2 linked regions of the Homo sapiens genome follow. The protein of the gene in region 2 interacts with the protein of the main gene of each other region in a pairwise test. Each region holds a gene or a part of one and is shown on either strand. Other genes may lie near its edges.

The links. The genes of interacting proteins can lie anywhere in the genome.
Region 1: the proteins of GARIN4 (region 2) and RAB2A interact in binary tests that used the Homo sapiens proteins (3 or more experiments, as listed by UniProt).

Annotation. Positions count from the first base shown.
Region 1 is NC_000008.11:60,620,095-60,624,764, reverse strand, and holds the end of RAB2A (ras-related protein Rab-2A), read right to left. Parts: intron 4,092-4,670; coding exon 3,996-4,091; 3' UTR 1,121-3,995; downstream 1-1,120.
Region 2 is NC_000001.11:212,622,428-212,628,228, forward strand, and holds GARIN4 (Golgi-associated RAB2 interactor protein 4), read left to right. Parts: upstream 1-2,046; 5' UTR 2,047-2,450; coding exon 2,451-4,235; 3' UTR 4,236-4,348; downstream 4,349-5,801. UniProt on the Homo sapiens protein: RAB2B effector protein required for the compacted Golgi morphology, probably through interaction with small GTPase RAB2B.

The DNA.
Region 1 (4,670 bases), on a different chromosome or scaffold from region 2:
GTCTTCTTACTTTCCATCCTGTACCCACCCAGTGTTTGTAACTAGTTTCTGGTGTATTCTGGAGATCTTCTTCCTCACCCTTCTTTATAGCTGTGTAGGACTCCACTGTGTGGATGGACACAGTTTAGTGAATCACTATAGTTTATTGAATCACTATAAGTGGAAATGACATATAAGTCATTTCCAATAATTTCTAATTACAACCAATGCTGCAGAAAGTAACCTTGTGCATATGGAGCTTTTGCTTTATTGGAGAATTATCATTTGGGCGGATTCCTACAAGTGGGATTTCTGGGCCAACAGCAAGTGTACATGTAATTTTATTAGGTATTGCCAAGTTCCCCTCCAGAAAGGTAGTTCCAGTTTGCACTTCTACCAACACCACACAAAGGTGCCTCACCAATACAATGTGGCGTTGTATTTTACATTTCTTCCAGTCTCATAGGTGAGAAATGGCATCTGAGCTTTAATTTGCATTTGTTTGAATTTTTAAAAATAAATTTTATTGTGTTTAAAAGTATACCTGTTATGGGATACACATAAATAGAAGGTTACTAGAGTGAAGCAAATTAATGTATCCATCACTCACATTTGAATTAAAAATGCATTTTAGGGACACTTTGTATGTTTTTTGTAAATTGCTCATTTTCCTCCATTTTTCTATCAGGAGTTTGGTGCTTTGTCCTTCAATGTTTAAGAATTGGCCTCATAATTTTGTAAAACTAATTAATACTAATATATAGACTGGCACTTAGTTTTTGGCCAGGCATGGTGGCTCACACCTGTAACCCCAGCACTTTGGGAGGCTGAGGTGGGCAGATGACCTAAGGTCAGGAGTCTGAGACCAGCCTGGCCAACATGGCAAAACCCCGTCTCTACTAAAAATACAAAGTAGCCGGGCGTGGTGGCAGGGACCTCTAATCCCAGCTACTTGGGAGGCTGAGGCATGAGAATCACTTGAACCTGGGGAGGTGGAGGTCACAGTGAGCCAAGACGGCGCCACTGCACTCCAGCCTGGGGGATTAGAGTGAGACCTGTCTCCCAAAATAAACAAAATAAATAAAATGAAGTTCTCTGTCGTGACTTCAACCAAAAAATAATAATACCTAGTACATCCGAATGCAGTATGAGATGATCTACTGTGGCGTTAGGCTTTATTTTAATGTAAACATAAAGCACACATCTAAACTCTGAGAAATACAGGTAGATATGCTGGTTTACCTATTTGTATAGTCAATTCCTGTTTATTATGAAACAGCGTTATCTCTTTGTGTATCTTTTAGCTCATATAGTCAAACCCCATGCTGCCAACCTCAGGACTAAATAAACTGAGATGGGGCTTTACTATCTATGACAGAATAAATGTTTAAGGTGTTGCAAAGCCAGACATGAATCAGTTTTTCTGAGTGATTGGAAACATTTTGGTACGATTTATATCCTAACTCTTTTTGACCATTAGCAGATAAATAGGGACTATTTTCCTGCTAACAGGCTATTTTAAAATATCATTAAAAACAAATTGTATGCAGTTGTATATCCTGTTTCAGTTGTATATCTAATTATATGCCACATTCTTTCAAAAAATTGGCTTTTCATTCAGTTGTCTTAAATTTGCAAGACGAATGGTAACAATGTCTTTATGAAGATCACAATTTTGAATGTTACATGTTGAGTGAGACATTGAAAGCTGTGTTTATTTTTTTCAGTGACTGATTTTCTATGTCCATAGATGCTATAAAAACTGATCGAAGATCAACTAAAAATTCAATTACAATATTACAAATTCAACTGCAGGTACCAATATTACATTATTTGACAGGGATAATAAAATGAGCAAAGACTGGAAATCACAGACAATAACATTGCTTTCTCAATTAACAGAAAGGATTCATAACATATTCCTTAACGGTAGATGTGATTTGTAGAGAATGTGGAAAAGAACTATTGAGAAGTCCACCTGCTGCCCCAGACTGAGGCACATTAGGGTGGTTGTGGGAGGAGTTATATTTGAGGGTTCCATTTTTCCTTAGGGTATTAAAATGCATGTCCTGGTTTGTTGTTTATTTGCCATTAAGTTCTCTTCTTCAAATAAAAGAATTAGGGGAGAAAGTATGGAAAAGAAACGCACTAAACTTCTGGAAAAATTAACAGAAGCTTAAAAATAACAATTTCCAAAGAATCATTCTCTTCTTGGTATAGAGCAGTACCTGTCCTAGTTGCCTTAACTTTTTGTACTCACTGGTAAAGACAGTGATTAGTAAGACCAGTGAATTTGATACAGCCACTTGAAAGAAAAAAAGGCTGTACTACAAATACCCATGAAAACAGATTTTCTCTCACCCTTCCCTCTGCCCTCAAGGAGACAGTTAAAACAAAACTATGACAGCATTTGGTGATTTCCCACAAGAGTACTGTCAAACCTTTGAGAGAGTACTGCTGAATCTTCAGGGAAGACCTGTAGAAAGTTGAAGGCCATGAGCGAAATGAAAGTAGTTAGTTTCAGAGTTAGAACTTCTTTATGCTTTCTTTCAGGCATAAGTGCTTTTGTGCTAGTTCAGGAGAAAACACTTGCTTACACTGCTTACACCATCAACAAAAATAATTTCAGTATGGTGAGATTTGTCGCATTTTAGCAAAATTTTTAAAAAGGGTTGAGTGTTAACCATTCTGACCCTTTTAAAAAACATGCTTAAACCCATGTAAAAGCTGTAAGTGGACTAAAAATACATTAAAAAAGAGGTGGTCATAATAAAAAAAAAGAACACTTTTATACATAGGATTTTATTTTGCACTGCTGTAACAATTTCATTATAGACCAAGGGAGAAAAAGAAAAAAAGGATAAAACCACCACACTGAGTAAATTACTAAAGCTTTTCTACTTTGTAACAGGATTTTCCATCTGATAGATTTATTGTCATATCCCCTTCAAAACAGACAAGATGCTCACCATATTTTAAAGATTATAGAGGTTGCCACTGAAAGAAAAATTTTACACAGTCACTGTACATCAAGGTTGAAAAACTGTCCTGCATGAAAAATATACTTAGAAATCATGTGAATAAAAGAAAAAAGAAAACATTATTGTGTTTAAGGAAAGATTAAAGTCCTCATAATGTGCCATCTAAATGTGGATACTCATTCTTCTTGGAGTCGCTAAGATGTAGAAATTTCTTGCTTCTGCCCTTTTCACTCATTATACTGTGTTTTTTCCCAACAGTATTCATTAAGGCAAACAAATCCCTTTCTGAAGAGGTCTTAAGGAAATTGTGGACAAAGCAAACTTTTGGCATTAAAACAGGTTAACATATACAAAGCCTTTGTAATATACATTAAGCATATTTTTCTTGGACTAGTGACAAGAAAAGATGAACATGCTTGTTAACAATGTCAAAAAGTTTAAAATTCAGTGTCCAAGCAATTCCTAACAATGCTTCTGTAGCTTTAAGCTCTAAACAGTATAGAATTTATGCAAATGCATTAAAGAATTCAAGCTTGGCAAATTACACCCAAGCAGGTTATTAAACTATATATACAGAAAGTAAATGATAAATACAGAATTAAAAGAGTCCTTCTGTTTCCTTATAGCCGTGAAAATTGACAAAGTTTCTGAGGACAGTTCTATAATATTAAACATTAGGTAACCACAGATGTTGGGAAACCTAACTACACAAACCGATTTAAAATACTCAAGATGACTTTGTAGTGTTTAATACAATTCAGTTCGTAGTTAAGGGCACAAGACAACATTTAACAAAAATAATCACATCAATTGACCTAGAAATCAAATGCAAATAGATATGAATACAATCTCCAAAATCTGTCTTTTAAGTGAACATTAACCATTTATTCAAAGTTATACAAGAATTTGACGGATTAAAGTCTTCTGTGACATAAAGCCATTTCAAATAGTTTCATGTCTCAGCTGAGCAGGAGGAGAGGGGGTGAAAGAATAAGTGAGTAGGCCCCGTTGGGCAGCTAGACAGTAAAAACAGACTCAACAGCAGCCGCCCCCAGCCTGCTGTCCTCCCTGATTGCCTGCATGTGTTGCATTGGTAGCAGCATGCTGAGGGCCAATTTTAATGCCATTTGCCTGAAATAAAAGAGAACAGAACAATAAATATGACCAGACAATATAGTTTAACTAATTCTTAAAAAACTCATTTAATTCTTTATGATACAATTTTATCAAACAACTGAGAAAAATACAGCAAGTAGATTTTAGCAACAATTAAAACAATATCTCCTAAGGGATGTTCCTTCCTTTTAAAAACACTGTGGAAATGTTTCTGAAAATAATTCTTTATCATACCAGGTACGGGGTAAACAGTTATTGGATAATGCTGCTTTTCAGGAAATTCTCATAATGCAGAAATCATTTAAAATAATTATTGCAAGTAATCTTTAAAGCATAAAAATACCCAAAGCCCATGCTGCTTTAATACAACGTAAAATCTTTTCTCTAGACAGTGTTTCTGTTCCATGTTGAATCAGCTGTACAGGCTAAGGGCATATGAGTGTTCTGTGTCATCAATAATTTCTATGATCCCCAAAGACATGGCAGCTTGCCAAGAACCCACACACAGAGTAGTTCTTTCATTCATCAAACTCACACTTATGTCTTAACCCTCACTCCCTCAAGTGGATTTTACCTAAAAATACAACACTTTGA
Region 2 (5,801 bases):
AGCGTTTCCAATTAGAATCTGCCTGAAAGGAGGTCCCATTTGCCCACTGAGCATCCTGTGTTCTCATGGTGGCTCTAACTCCAGAAGATTTTAACACAGTCTCATCAAACACTGCTTTCAGGGAGGAATTTACACTGAGGTTAAAAGGACTGTTGAGGACTAATGCTAACAGAAGCTAACATTTATTGCGTAGGACAATACACTAAACACTTCACATGTATTATCCCATTTAATCCTCACAACAACTGCTACCCCCATTTTACAGATGAGGGAGTGGAGAGCTCAGTAACTTGCTCGAGGTCTCACAGTGGATCTTTCCAAAGCTGAAGCCTATGCTTGTTTTCAACAGCAATGATTTCAAACAAGAGTATATACATTTGTGTGTGTGTGCGTGGTAAGATATACAAAAAATTTGCCATTGTAACTATTTTGAAGTGTACAATTCAGTGCCATTAAGTACATTCACAATGCAGTGTAACCATTACTATCTAGTTCCAGAACTTTTTCACTGTCCCCAAAGGAAATCCTGTACCCATTAAGGAGTCACTCTTCATTCCCCTTCCTTCCAGTCTCTGGCAACCACTAATCTGTCTTCTGTTTCTATGGACTTGCCTGCGCTGGATATTTTATGTAAATAGCATCATACAATATGTGGCCTTTCGCACAATACGGCTGGCTTCTTTCACTTAGCATAATGTTTTCAAGTGTCAGCCTAGCGTATTATGTAATAGTACCTTATTTCTCTTTATGGCTGAATAGTATTCTGTTGTATGGATACTATACTTTTTGTTTATCCATTCATCAGTTGATAGACAGGTGTGTGTATGTTAAGAAACAGCTAGCCTTTATCTTCAAGAACTGAATCTCTAAGGTAGGATTTCAGGCCTGATGTCAAGCTGGGAGAAAAGAGAGTTGGAAGCAGGTGCTCCTTTTCAGGACTTCCAGGTAACAGCTTGGAAATTACTTATTCCTGGGCTCGCTCTGTGGGCATGGCAAGGCAGGAGGTATAGTAGCACCTGTTCCCCATGGATGTAAATGGCTTCCAAAGTACTTCTGCATAGTAGAGAGGTTAGTAGAGGAGGGCCTTTGATAGGCTCCTGGAATGTAAGCTCACACTTTCCATCCTACCCTCTTCTCCCGGCATTTCACAGGGTAGGGGGTAAGAAGAGGCACGGGGCAAACACTGGGGGCCTTGAGAAAATATTTGGGCTCCCTGACACAGGATGTTGGTATAAACATGATGGAGGAGAAATAGAGGTGGCCCCTTGGATAATTTAATCCCCCACTCAGCCCAGCCCCTTTCTGAAGTGGTTGTCCTGGATTCTCCATAACATGCATGCATACACACACACACACACACACACACACACAGAATTAATTATGCAACTTATTTGGCTTGCCCAAGCTTTTTTTGTAAGTTCTGTAGTGGTTCAGAAGGAAGATTTTAAAAGCAGCAAGACCTGTATTCAAATAATACCTCCACTGCCTACGAGTTCTACAAATGCAGGTATGTTTCACAACTTCAGGTTTTTTTTACCTGTAAGATGAGAAGCGTTGCAATAGTATCAAACTGGAATGGAGTTTGATACATAGTATGGCGCCTAGAAGAAGCAATCTCTCATGTTATTATTAAAGGTTGAGGTTATTACTAAAGATTTCCATTGTCAGCATGAACTGAGATTTTATGGAAGAGTGGGCTAAGAACCAAGACTGCGAATTCTAGGTTAAAAAAAAATTTAAACCGTGTACTCAAATGGTTCAAATTTATCCCATCATCTTGCGTTCCTGTAGACTCTGCCTAGTTGCTGAATCTTTTGAATTTGGGGTGAGGAAGGGGAAGCAACCACACATTTTCTCATTTGAAAAATTTTTATTTTGGCACCCACTTGAGTACCTGGCACGGTGGGGCTGTCCTCTATGGGGGCAATGGAGTATTAGTGAGGGCATTGTGGCCCTGGCCTGGGGGATGAGAACAAAGGGGTATGTGACAGCAACAGGTCACAAAGGGAAGCAGAAGATAAATATGGCTGCACAGGGGGTTTAGGCAGAGAGGGTCGTCACTTCCTGTCACTAGGACTACAGTTTGTAGTCTCTCTCAGGGAGAGAGACTACAAACTGTAATTAAAAAAATCAGAGGTGGAGGTCAGGGGGTTAGGTCCAGAAGAAAACCTCTCTGGAGCCCACCCTGCATCTCTACGTCTTGGAAGAGTCTGGAGTCCAGGCACCCTACAGCACCCCCCACAGCAATCATCCGTGCTCCCACCCCCACCCCGGCCTCTGGGAGGCTCTGAGGCAACAGTGGGGGCCTGTGGGGTGGGGTGGGATTGAGAGACCAGCTGCAGAGACATCTTTGTGACCCAGGAGCACCACTGGTCCCTCATCTGCCACCGAGGCCAAGGAAGACCCAGAGACCTGCCTCACCAGTGCTGCCGTTGTGCTGAAAGACAACCATGAATGCTGATTTTCTGCTGCCGTATTATACGGCCCAGAGTGGCTCCAGCATGAGCATGTTCAACACCACCATGGGGAAACTGCAGCGACAACTGTACAAGGGGGAGTACGATATATTCAAGTATGCACCGATATTTGAGAGCGACTTTATCCAGATCACCAAAAGGGGAGAAGTGATTGATGTGCACAACCGTGTCCGTATGGTGACCATGGGCATTGCACGTACCAGCCCCATCCTCCCACTCCCAGATGTCATGCTACTGGCACGACCGGCCACCGGCTGCGAAGAGTATGCTGGACATGGCCAGGCCACCAAGAGAAAAAAACGCAAGGCAGCAAAGAACTTAGAGCTCACCAGGCTTCTGCCCCTGAGGTTTGTACGGATCTCTGTTCAAGACCATGAGAAACAACAGCTGCGCCTGAAGTTCGCCACTGGCAGATCTTGCTATCTGCAATTGTGTCCCGCTCTTGACACACGGGATGACCTCTTTGCCTATTGGGAAAAACTAATTTACCTCTTGCGGCCACCCATGGAGAGTAACAGCAGTACCTGTGGCATTCCAGCTGAAGACATGATGTGGATGCCTGTGTTTCAGGAAGACAGGAGGAGCCTGGGAGCCGTGAACCTTCAAGGAAAGGGGGATCAGGACCAGGTCAGCATCCAAAGCCTCCACATGGTCTCTGAGGTGTGTGGGGCCACCTCTGCTGCTTATGCTGGAGGGGAGGGACTCCAAAATGACTTTAACAAACCCACTAATGTGCTCAATGCATCCATCCCCAAAACATCTACAGAACTTGCTGAGGAGCCAGCAACAGGGGGGATTAAAGAGGCAGCAGCAGCAGGGGCAGCTGCAGGGGCAGCAACAGGCACCGTAGCAGGTGCCTTGAGTGTGGCAGCAGCCAATTCTGCCCCTGGACAGGTGAGCGCAGCCATAGCTGGGGCGGCCACCATCGGTGCAGGAGGAAACAAAGGCAACATGGCCCTTGCAGGCACTGCCAGCATGGCTCCAAACAGCACGAAGGTGGCTGTGGCAGGGGCTGCAGGCAAGTCCTCAGAGCATGTTTCCAGCGCATCCATGAGCCTTTCCCGAGAGGGCAGTGTGAGCCTGGCCATTGCAGGAGTAGTACTGACCAGCAGGACAGCTGCAGAAGCAGACATGGATGCAGCAGCGGGACCTCCCGTCTCCACCCGGCAGAGCAAGAGCAGCCTGAGTGGACAGCATGGAAGGGAGCGAACCCAGGCCAGCGCTGAAGGCTGCAAGGAGGGGAGGGAAAGAAGGGAAAAGGACAGGGCTCTCGGAAGGAGTTCCCATCGCCGCAGGACAGGTGAAAGCCGCCACAAAACAAGGGGAGACAAGATTGCCCAAAAGTCCTCCAGCAGGTCCTCATTCAGCCACAGAGCCAATAGAGATGACAAAAAGGAGAAAGGCTGTGGCAACCCGGGGAGCAGCAGGCACAGGGACTCGCATAAAGGTGTCAGCCACACGCCCATCTCAAAGGAGTCCAGGACCTCTCACAAATCTGGGAGGAGCTTATGGACCACCAGTTCCGGTTCCAGCAAGGGACTTGGCAGGGTCAGCTCTTTCCTGAGGAACGTCAGAGCCAACCTTACTACAAAAGTAGTGGGCACACCACATGGCAGAGATGTGAACGTCATGGCTAAGATGGCGGAGAGGAGCACCAACGTGGCCATCGCCGAGACAGCAGAGGGTGGCCAGGGGCTGGAGACGGTTGGTTCTATGACACCGGACATCATGGAGACAGTGACCTTTGAAGCCCATTAAATAAGACCCAGAGCTGGAAGCTGCAAAGGAGCCCAGAGCTCATGGGAGTGTCCCTGGAAAGCCTATTCCAGCGTTCTTTACTGCCGTTTAAATAAAGAATCATACATCTGAAAGTGGCTTGCTGGCTGAATTTTTGTGTCCCACAGCCCAGCAGTGACCTCACAGTGGATTCTGTGATGTCAACTGTGCTGCAGCCTGAGACCCCAGGATCCAGTCAAGGGTAGCCCCACCTCACACCCATGCTCAGCAGAGCCCAGATGAGTGCTCCAGCTTTCCTCAACCCCTTCCTGGCTTTGGTTCGCCAGGACTATGGCTGAAAGTCAGGCTGGGAGCTTGAAGCTCTACCTCCACCATCTCCCCATCCTTTTTATAAACTTGCCCCCTCCCAACCCTGGAAAATCCAAAGACGAAGCAAGAACAGAACTCTCACCCCCTTGCACTATTCATAGGAGGGAGTAAGGGAGCAGCAGCATGTGTTGGCAACCAGAACAGGGAGGAGCATTGTCTAGACTTAGCAATTCCACCCCTAAGTATACTCCCAAGAAACACACATGTTGCAGGAGACAGCCATGAGAATGTTTGTAGCAAAATAATACTGGAAACTGCCTAAATTTCCATCAACAGAATTGAGAGGGGTATATGCAGTGACAAATAAATGGCAGCTACACACATTAGCGTATTAGCATAGATAAGTTTTGCTCTTTCAAAAACTTTAAAAAGCAAATTGCAGAATAAGATATAATTCTACCTACAGGACAATTCAAAAACAAGATCAAATACAAATAATATGTTACATATTGGATACATGTTTGGTAAAACAAAACCAAGGGAGTGGGAAAAAATTCAGGACAGTGGTTTTCTCTGGGGTGGAAAGGCAAGAGATTGGATCAAGGAGGTGAACACAGTCTTTCAGTGGTGTTGGGAATTGTTTTAGTTCTTAAGGGAGGCGGTAGGTACAAGGCTGTTTATTATTTTGTTGGGTTTTGCATTTCAACATTGTGTTTTGCATTTTAATACCTCTGGAATCAGAATGGTCCTACAACCACCGTGGCAGTTCTGATGAAGTTATTGCTCCAGACATATATTCACCAATTCCTTCTCCTCAATGCTTTCATTTTTATGCATGCACAAAAGTGATCTAAGTCTGAAAGGCCCATTTTGTTAAGAATCACATGAGAATGACATTATTACCAAAAGCCTTGGGAAAGAAAGAATGATATCCCTATTTTACAGAAGAGGACACTGAGGCTCAAGAGGGTAACTTGCTCCAGTCACACAGAGGGACCTTTGCAGATCTACCAGCCCACTTCTTTATGCAAAGCCCTGTCTGAGACATGGGAAGGAGGCAAACCCAGCAAATCCAAGGAGAATCGGGCAATGCAAGAACCTGAGACTTACCAGGTTCCTACCACCATGGTCTAAAACTTTATAGAGATGAGCACCAAAATTCCTGGATTGAGAGGAGGGAATGTGGGGGCAGGGGACATGTCTGGTGGTGAGCTGCTGTGAGTTGGCTTTGGAACTTCAATGAGCTCATAGTCCTTAGTTGGCCTTATCTCAAGAGTG